Regions from separate parts of the Homo sapiens genome. Here region 2 is linked to region 1. The links come from fine-mapping of genetic effects on gene expression. Tissue or cell type: whole blood. Region 1 holds a variant in brackets; the other region holds the start of a gene. All regions are shown on one strand. Distances are from middle to middle.

The links.
Region 2: SLC17A5 starts here. The variant in region 1 is fine-mapped to the expression of SLC17A5 in whole blood (TOPMed, PIP 0.99).

The regions. Positions count from the first base shown.
Region 1 is chr6:73,590,701-73,596,228 of GRCh38, forward strand. It overlaps SLC17A5 (solute carrier family 17 member 5), which reads right to left. Exons shown (of 11, transcript NM_012434.5): 11 at 2,679-4,514. The coding sequence ends at 4,377. Among named protein-coding and RNA genes, the nearest start is that of SLC17A5, 61 kb to the right of the region's middle. The variant G/A (reference allele first, on the strand shown) is at 2,812.
Region 2 is chr6:73,651,935-73,656,934 of GRCh38, forward strand. It overlaps SLC17A5 (solute carrier family 17 member 5), which reads right to left and starts at 2,058. Exons shown (of 11, transcript NM_012434.5): 1 at 1,859-2,058. The coding sequence starts at 1,952. RefSeq lists a silencer at 1,504-2,173 and an enhancer at 3,173-3,262.

The sequences.
Region 1 (5,528 bases):
TGCACTCCAGCCTGGGCAACAGAGCAAGTGTCCGTCTGAAAATAAATAAATAAATGAAACAATATATTTATTTGAATAGGTCATACTGCCACATTTGGTAAAGTGAAAATTAATTGTCCTTCCTATCCCTAGTTGCTGATTTTATCTCTATAGAGGTAACCGTTGTTTGTGGAAAAATCTACTCAAACTGTGTTTTTTTTTTTTTGTTTTTTTTTTTTTTGTTTTTTTTGAGACTGAGATTCGCTCTTGTTGCCCAGGCTGGAGTGCAATTGCGTGATCTTGGCTCACCGCAACCTCTGCCTCCTGGGTTCAAGCGATTCTCCTGCCTCAGCCTCCCGTGTAGCTGGGATTACAGGCATGTGCCACCATGCCCGGCTAATTTTGTATTTTTTAGTAGAGACAGGGTTTCTCCATGTTGGTCAGGCTGGTCTCGAACTTCTGATCTCAGGTGATCTGCCTGCCTCAGCCTTCCAAAGTGCTGGGATTACAGGCGTGAGCCACCACGGCGGGCCAAATGTGTTTTTTTTCTTTTTCTTTTTCTTTTTTGAGACGGAGTCTCACTCTGTCGCTCAGGCTGGAGTGCAGTGGCGCGATCTCAGCGCACTGCAAGCTCCGCCTCCCGGCTTCATGCCATTCTCCTGCCTCAGCCTCCGGAGTAGCTGGGACTACAGGCACCTGCCACCATGCCTGGCTAATTTTTTTGTATTTTCAGTAGAGGTGGGGTTTCACCATGTTAGCCAGGATGGTTTCGATCTCCTGACCTCGTGATCCACCCGCCTCGGCCTCCCAAAGTGCTGGGATTACAGGCGTGAGCCACCGCGCCCGGCCCAAATGTGTTTTTTTCTTATCTCTCATTCAACAATAAACACAGAAGACTTCTGTGATTAAAAGGGTGTGGGTTTTTCCTCACACACCAACTAAGCAATCAGTTCTGCAACAGACACCGACTGGGTGTCTCCCAATTCAGTACTGACACTGTCTACCTGGAGGTAGCATCCGATTCCACAGGTTGAAGGCCCAGTCCCCAGGATTGCCCACCACTGGAGACACCAGTCCCAAGTCTAGGGTTCTGGAACTTGTGACCTGCTGGCTTCAAGTTGAGGTTTTCACAACTGCCTCTTTTGGTTCAATCGATTTGCTAGAGTGGTTCGAAGAACTCAGGGAAACACTTATGTTTATCATTTACTATAAAGGATATTACAAAGGACACAGATGAAGAGATGCACAGGGCAATGTCTGGGGAAAGGGATGAGGAACTTCCATGCCCTCTCTGGGCGTGCCACCCTCCAGGAACCTCCATGTGTTCAGCTATCAGTAGCCTCCCCAAACCCTGTCTTATTAGGCCTTTTATGGAGACTTCATTGGATAGTCATGATTAACAACCATGTAGAAATGTGATTGGACAGAAAGGGTGTGATCTAACACTAATAGACTCAGAGGGAAACCCACCAAGTCCTGTCCAGATTCTTCTTGGCCTCTCTGTGCAGCATTCCTTCCTCCAGGGTATGGAGAGGACCTCTTCTCAAACGTGGGCATGGGGTCTTATGACCTACAGTCCAACAAGGTAGGCCACATAATTTTTTTTTTTTTTTTTGAGACGGAGTCTCACTCTGTCACCCATGCTGGAGTGCAGTGGTGCAATCTCGGCTCACTGTAACCTTCACCTCCCGGGTTTAAGTGATTCTCCTGCCTCAGCCTCCCGAGTAGCTGGGACTACAGACGCCCGCCACCACGCCTGGCTCATTTTTGTATTTTTAGTAGGGACGGGGTTTCACCATATTGTCCAGGCTGGTCTCGAACTCCTGACCTTGTGATCCGCCCGCCTCAGCCTCCCAAAGTGCTGGGATTACAGGTGTGAGCCACCTCCCCAGCCACAGAATTTCTTTATGACCAGTTCCAAGACAGAAAGGTGGGGGAAGATTCCTGCCTTGGGAGAAAAAGCAGCAGGTGAAAGGAGGAGAGGAGAGGATCAGAAAGATTCTGTTTCCTGAGGCTACTTCTAAGGGCTAAAGGCGCTCAACATAACAAGAGCTACGGGAGTTATGAGCCTCGAACCATGGATGAAAATCTATATCTGTATCTATATCTATCTATAAAATCACACACTGTTTTCCAGTTTCTTGAGTATTATCTTAGAGATATTCTGTACACTTGTGATTTAATGTCTCCAGGAGACTTCTGTATTTTTATTTAAGGACTAGAGAAGACGTGTGTATCTCTGAGATAGAAGGAAAAGAATAAGGGGAGAGACTGAAGAAGTAAATGAAAGAGGAGCTCCTAACTGGGCGTGATAGCACATGCTGTGTAGTGCCAGCTACTTGGGAGGCTGAGGCAGGAGGATCGCTTGAGCTCAGCTTGGGCAACAAAGCAAGACCCTGTCTCAATTATTTAAAAAAAGAATTACTGAAGCAAGTCCTTAGAGGAGGTGGGAGAGAGAGAATCAGTGTAGTGTGGGCATATGCTATAGCAAGAAGGACTGACTCTATTCAGAGCTAGGAAGGGCAGGTTGATGGCAACAGAGATTTCTGATGCTGTATCCCTTAGGAGGCCCAAGTTCCTCGGCTTTGTGGTAGCAGAAATGTGTGTAGAGAAGACGATGGCTCGAGCAGGATGCAGAAAAGATGTCAAAGAGTCACTGTGGACACTAGGAAACATCACAGAACTGTCAGATCCAAAAATCAATTCACAAAGGTTTATTTTGATGATTTATAAAAGAAACATTGCCATAGCAATTTAAAGCTATTTACAAATTTAAAAATAAATGTACATAAATGTATTCACATCACATTAAACAGTTTTAAAATATTACAC[G/A]TAGTGTTGAACACAAAACATAAACTAAGTTTTAAGCCACATAGGTGTTCTGAAAGCATGCTCAACAACCACAGCCACTGGAGGATGGTCCACTGGAAAAATATGATTTCAGGAACCAGAAGTAAAGATGATTACCCTAGTCTCAGGTGATGTGGCCTTTAAAAGTCACTTTAACTTTAAACTGCAACACAAACTTAGATGAAGACAGACTGAACAAACAGTGAGAATTAATTAAAAAAAAAATTCTCGTGTAGCTTAAAAACATAGAACAGGCTGGGCACAGTGGCTCATGCCTGTAGTCTCAACACTTTGTGAGGCCGAGACAGGAGGATCGCTTGAAGCCAGGAGTTCAAAACCAGCCTGGGCGACAAAACGAGACCCCATCTCTACAAAATACAAACGAACAAAACACAGCACATAGAAATTTATACTGTGATCCATGTGAGAGTAGATTTAAACCAGGATGATCTTATTTGTGATTGACTGGGCATCGCACTTTTCTTTCTTTATTCTTTTTTTTTTTTTGAGTTGGAGTCTCGCTCCATCGCCCAGGCTGGAGTGCAGTGGCGTGATCTTGGTTCACTGCAACTTCCACCTCCCAGGTTCAAGTGATTCTCCTACCTCAGCCTCCTGAGTATCTGGGATTACAGGCGCCCGTCACCACGCCCAGCTAATTTTTTGTATTTTTAGTAGAGATGGGGTTTCACCATGCTGGCCAGGCTGGTCTCGAACTCCTGATCTCATGATTCGCCCACCTCAGCCCCCCAAAGTGCTGGGATTACAGGCATGAGCCACCGTGCCCGGCCGCTTCGCATTTTTCTTTTGCAGGTTGCATGCCAGCCAATATTCCTCTGTGCTGGGAAGGGAAAGTTTGAGGATGTATCAAGACCATAGCAGTGGATCTCACTGCTCTTGCCTACTCAGGGCTTTATCTACACATTGATAGCCCCTCAGAGGAAAGGCACCAGCCGAAGAGTCGACACTGGCTCTGGGCTTGGATGCTGCCTCTGATAAACGCTGGGCACTCTGACCCTGAAGCCAGGGAGGGAGTGCTTGGCAGCTGCCTGGGCACACTCCCCTCAGTCCAGTTGCCAGGCGAAATTATACAGTGGATGGCAGCTCCACAGAGATGCTAAAGTTTGAGGTCTAAGTGTCAGAGAGAGCTGACAATTTTTATGAGGAAAGTGAACAACAACAGGTGTTTATCAGTACCTGAGAATTATCATCTAGTTTAATTAAGCAAAGGTATCAGGAGGTCTGTTTCAGCTCATTCCCTTTAGTATGGCCCTAAAAAATCAACAGAACTGTCCTACTTCATGTTGCCCGACTAGCAGGCAGGTATGTGAACCTAAAGTAGAAGTCCTAGCTTACATATTATTCATAATTAAACACAGTTCATTTTATTATTCTGGCAACTAGTGATATTTCATGATTATAGGCCTTAAAAATCTAATACAAGTACAATTAAAAAAAGACATAGAATGCTTACACAATACAGAAGGCACTTTGAGGTTACATGATAAATAAAAATACATTAATAGAGGCAGGATTATTTATTGGTTCCTTCAGTGTCTGTGTCCATGGTGATCATTGAGAGCCCAGTTTTGTACTTCACCTTTGGCGAATAGTGTAAAGAAAATGGCACCAAAAACATTAATAGCAGCAGCAATATAGAACACGGTTTGCCATTCTCCAACAGTGTTCTATAAAGGAAGACAAAAAATGCAAGTGAAATAAAATTTTGTGTGTAGTTCACTTCATTAAAAAGATAGTGTCACAAGAGTGTTAAAACAGCCACATTATTCATAAAAGCCTCATCCTTGAAACAACCCAAATGTCCACCAGCAGTAGGATAGTGGTATATTTGTTCAACGTAATACAATACAGCAATGAGAATGGGCTACAACATCATAAATACAGCTCACAAACAAAATATGAAGCAAAAGAAGCCAGACAAAAAAGGTACATACTAAATTATTCCATTTATATAAAGCCCAAAGTCAGACCATACTAATCTATGGGGTTAAAAGTTGGGAGAGTGGTTCCACTTGGTGAGGGTGAAGGAAAAATAGGAGGAAATGGTACCTGGGGTCTTACTGAGGGAGGTAATATTCTGTTTCTTGATTGGGTGCTGGTTACACAGATGTATTAACTTTGTGGAAATTCATCTAGCTGCACACTTTAGATTAGTGCATTTATTTATTTTTGTTTTTATTTTTGAGACAGAGTCTCACTCTGTCACCCGGGCTGGAGTGCAGTGGCGCAATCTCGGCTCACTGCAGCCTCCACTTTCTGGGCTGAGGCAATCCTCCCAACTCAGCCTTCCAAGGAGCTGGGATTAGAGGTGCATGCTACCATGCCTGGCTAATTTTCTTTGTGTGTGTATATATATGTATATATATACGTATATATATACATATACATATATATATATATACGTATATATATACATATACATATATATATATATTTTTGGTAGAGATGGGGTTTCGCCATGTTTCCCAGGCTGGTCTTGAACTCCTGGGCTCAAGTGATCCACTCGCCTCAGCCTCCCGCAGTGATGGTACTACAGGTGTGAGCCACCACGCCTGGCCTGGATTTGTGCATTTAAAAAAAGTTATACTTCAATAAAAAGTTTACTGAAGATAGATAGATATACTTCAATAAAAAGTGTACTGGCATGTCCCTGAATCATGCCTAACACTAACTAACACTAA
Region 2 (5,000 bases), 61 kb after region 1:
GATTTGCTTCAAAATACACAGTATGTATGAGCATAAGGCAAGACTGGCCATGAATTGATAACTTTAATCTGGGTGCTGGTTACATGGGGGCTCATTATATACTTCTCTTAATTGCCATATATGCTCCTTCTCTATAAAACTTATCATATTCTAAATAGCAAAAACAGTATGTTACTATTATTTCCACTTCACTTGCTCTCCAGTGGGTATGTAAAGAGGGAAAATAAAAAAGGAAATGGTTGTAACAAACGTAGCCACCTAAAGCCAGGAAGGACAGGGCCAGTACCATAAGATCCATACACTCAACACATGAATCAAGTAGGGATTGTTTTTAAAAGGGATGCTATAAGCTACTTTTTTAAAAATCAACTTTATTGAAGTATAATTTACGTGATAAATGTATACATTTGTCCATCTCAATCTTTATTGAGATGTATAACTTTTCTATCCACATCTCTGCTAACATTTGGTATTATCAGCCTTTTGGATTTTAGCTATTCTAGTGGGTGTATAGTGCCTCGTTGTAATTTTAATCTGCATTTTCCTGAGAATAATGTTTAACATTTGTGCTAAATTTTGATTATACATATACATATTTTTCAATTGTAACAATGTAATAATCTCTGGCAAATATCTTTATTATAACTTTTATTTCTGTATTTCTATATTATTTTATGAGGAATATTATACAATTTGAACACTACAAGCCACAGAAAATGATCAGTTTATGGAACTAAGTCCGACTTCCAGGTAAAACGTAACTATGGTATGGTATTTACAGTTTGTGTTGACTAAAATAAGCTCCCGGCTGCCAGATGGAGCTATAAGGTTGCCACCTCTACTGCCACCATCTGGTAACATTAAAAACAAATAAAAATATAGAAACTATACAATTCTGGGTTAGCCAAAGTCAAATTTCCAACACAACTCTTTCTCACGCACAGATCTTTGAAACTATAGAATGCATTCAAACTGATTTGTTCTTTAGTTTTCGTTACTTTTAAATAAACTATATTACAAAAGTGTCAAATAGCAAAATATTTTAATTTTCTCAAATTCAGGGAAGATGCTTTATGACGTACCTGCTTTTCGATTTGTTCCAAGACCTTTGGCAAATTACTTTAGAACTCCATAGGTATCTTGAGGATAACTGAACCTTTTCCTAACTTAAATCATAGACTGCCAGACGGAAAAAAAATGTCCTCGATGTTTTTAGTCTCTTACTGCACAATGTCAAGATATCAGCTGGGTTATACAATAGTTGCCCTCTGCATACTCACAAATGTTAACTCCAGTCCTTTTTTGTCTTCCCTCCCCGCCTAAGAAGCTACCAGGTCACATGCTGGCGGATACGCAGTGGCGGAAACCTAGCGGTGACAGGGAAGGACAGCCCTCTGCCTACTGATCTGCAGGTTTCTCCTCCAGTTTGCTCTTACACCGGGGTCCTCCGCTCGGACCTTAGCCCATTCATTTGATGATTCTCTCCCAGTTCGTTCTTCCACTGGGTCCCTTGCTCAGCACTACCCAAAATAACCACCAGCTCAGCGCCGGCTGCACCGCCGCTCCCCCGCCCCCGCCCCCGCCCCCGCCCCCGCCCGGTGGGGCTGCACCTGCCGAGGCCCCGGCTCGGCTCCGCGATCACGGTCGCGGCCCCCGGGGTTCCCGAGGGGCTTCTGCGCACCGAGGCAGGCGGGACTGAGCGGCACTCTGAACGGGCTCCCCTCTTAATGTCCCCTCGCGCCTGAGCAGCTCCGGTCCCGCCGGCGCAGGGTGCGGGTACCCGGGCCATGCCGGCCCAGAGACCGCCGCCCCCGGTACCGCTGCCCACTCGAAGCCCCTGGACGACCCCGCCGCTTACCGGCTTCGGCCCGTGGGGCGCCCGGTAGAAGAGGCGTGCGGTCCGTGCTCTCCTCGCCATCGTTCCGGGCCAGGTCTCGAACCGGAGACCTCATGACGCCTACGTGAGCAGGTGTACTCGCCACCTGGCAGAGAAGGGAGCGCCGGCCCGACAGCCCGAAGCCCCCGGGCCGAGCTGGCTGGACCGGGCGGGGCGGGGGCGATGACACCGCCCCGCGGCCACGTCTAGTCCCCGCGGTCCCGCCCAGAGGCGGCCGCGCCGACTCCGCCCCCGCCGCCATCTTAGGTGTGGGCAACTCTGGCTTGGGTTGGACTAGGGAAGCGGAGTTCTGGGAGTTCTCGTAGGATTGGCGCAAAGTGAGCCCGCTCCGCCCGCCGGTCTACGCATGCCGGGGAGCCGGTGTTCGGACGACCGTCTCCCGCTCCTGCACCCCCTTGTAAAGTGCAGGGGCCACCCTGCCCGCAGCGAGGATGAGTGGGGGCTTGCGGGCGGGCAGTGGGGACTTGAATTGCACATAATTAAGGGGAGGGCTTCGACCGAACTAGGGAAGTGGGTGGTGTGCATTTCACAACTTGACATTCGCTTGTTAGCGGTCAGTTGCCATACTGTTAGCAACCTTTGTACGATCTACCTCGTGACTGTGGCGGCATATTTACCTCGTGACTGTGGCGGCATATTGTCCCTAAAATAGCTTTTTTTTTTTTTTTTTTTTCTCCCAGGCAGGGTCTTGCTCTGTTGCCCAAGCTGGAATGCAGTGGCGCAATCGCAGCTCACTGCAACCTCCAACTCCTGGACTCAAGCGATTCTCTTCAGCTCCCCCAAGTAGCTGGGACTACAGGAGCATGCCACCACATCTGGCTAATTTTGTTTCTACTTTTTATTTTTGTAGAGGCTTGGTCTTATTATATTGCCCAAGCTGGTTTCGAACTCCTGGGCTCAAGCAATCCTCCTCGGCCTCCCAAAGTGCTGGGATTACAGGCGTGAGCCACTGCTCCTGGTCCTAAAATAGCTTTTAGGCGGAAAAACAGCAATGGAAATTTGTTGAGTCCTATGATGTTGCTGGTTTTATAGGTAAAAGTAATCAACATAGGTAGTTTCATATGGTTCGACCTATGGAATCCTCTGATGTATGTGTGCATGCTTTATCTCCACGATAGAATTTGGATAGATTGTGCTAGCATTTGCGGACTCTGAAAGTGAAACTAGGAAAACCCAGCTTGCCTTGGCAGGGCAGATCTGGATCCGCCAATAAAGGCTGTCTCTGTGGAGGTAGAAAATAAGATGTAGATGCTCTCGGAGAGTTTGGTGTAGACAGGGAAGACCCACAAGCCACTAATTCAGTAAACCAGGTTAGAAGCTTAGTGAGGTTCACGTGAGAACAAAGGGGAGGGTCCTTTACCTAGAAGGGAGGGCGAGGATTTCTGTAGGCATCCCTACCTCCAGATCAGTAAATGCTAGAAAAGTTCTCAAGTTAAAGCAGCAAATCAAGCCTTGTTTCTGAGTTACTGAATTACCATGTAGATTTTTACACTCTCTAAGGGTTGTAGAAAAATGCAATTTTCAAACTGGATTATGCAGAGTCACCTGGCAAATCCTTTTAAAATGTAGATTCAGATTCAGCAGATCTGGTGTGATGGTTAATTTTATGTGTTAACTTGCTGGTTGTCTTTGGATGAGGTTAACACTAAAATCATTGAACTCTGGGTAAAGATGGCTGCCTTCCATAATCTGGGTGGGCTTCCTTCAATCAGTTGAAGGCCTATCTAGAATAAAAAATCCGACTCCCCCACTTCTCTTGCCCAAGCAAGGGAGACTTCTCCAGCAGAGTGTCCTCAGACTTCATCTGCACCACAGGTCCTCCTGGGTCTCCAGGCATGTGCACCATCATCTGTTTTGGGTCGAGTTGGCCAGCCTATATTGTGAAAGCCAAAACTTTATTACCCAAACTACCCAATTGGGGCTGTTTCTCTGAGAAGCCCAGTACATCTGGGATGTGCCTGAGATTCTGTATTGCTAACAAGCTCCCAGATGACCAAGGTTATAGATAACTTGGGCCAGGGAATATAGTTGCAACAGACTTGAAAGACTTCAAACCAGAGGAATTCTTTTTTTTAATATTTTTTATTTTAGAAATTTTAGGTTTACATAAACGTTGCAAAGATAGTACAGTGAGTTCTCCATACCCTTTGCTTAGTTTGACCTATTATTAAGATCTTACATTAGTATCATGCATATATCATAACTAACGAGCCAGTATAGATAATTATTAACTGAAGTTCATACTTAATTTGCGTTTCTTTAATTTTTACCTAATATCCTTTTTCGGTCCCAGGATCTCATCCAGGATGCCACATTACATGTCTCCTTAGGCTCCTCTAGATCGACAGTTCCTGACTTTCATTGCTTTTGCTGACCTTGACAGTTTTGTAGAGTACTGGTAGGTTTTGTAGAAAGTGTCTTAATTTGGGTTGTCGAATTTTTTTTTGAGACGAGGTCACGCTCTGTCGTCCAGGCTAGAGTGCAGTGGCACGATCTCGGCTCACTGCAGCCTCCACCTCCCAGGTTCAAGCGATTCTCCTGCCTCAACGTCCCGAGTAGCTGGGACTATAGGTGCATGCCACCACGCCCGGCTAATTTTTTGTATTTTTAGTAGAGATGGGGTTTCACCATGTTAGCCAGGATGGTCTCCATCTCCTGACCTCCTGCCTCAGCCTCCACCTGCCTCAGCCTCCCAAAGTGCTGGGATTACAGGCATGAACCACCACCCCCGGCCTGAATGTTTTTCTTATAATTAGACTGGGGTTATGGATTTTTGAGGGAAAGGTCATAGAGGTAAAGGGCCATTCTCATCATGTAATGTCAAGGGAATGTGCTGTCAACTTATTTATCACTGATGTTTATCAGTAGTGATGGTAAGCCTCATTGCATGCCTGAGGTTGTGTTTGTCAGGTGTTTTCACTGTGAAGTTAACTCTTTTCCCCCGGCCTTACTTTTCTCTTTGGAAGGAAATCAGTATGTGCAGCCTTCACTTAAGGGGTGGGGAGTTATCTATACTCCACCAGTTTCAGGGGAAGAATTCTTTTGTTTGGGAGATTTGTTTATTCTCCTACATTTATTTACTTATTCAATCATTTATTTTTAT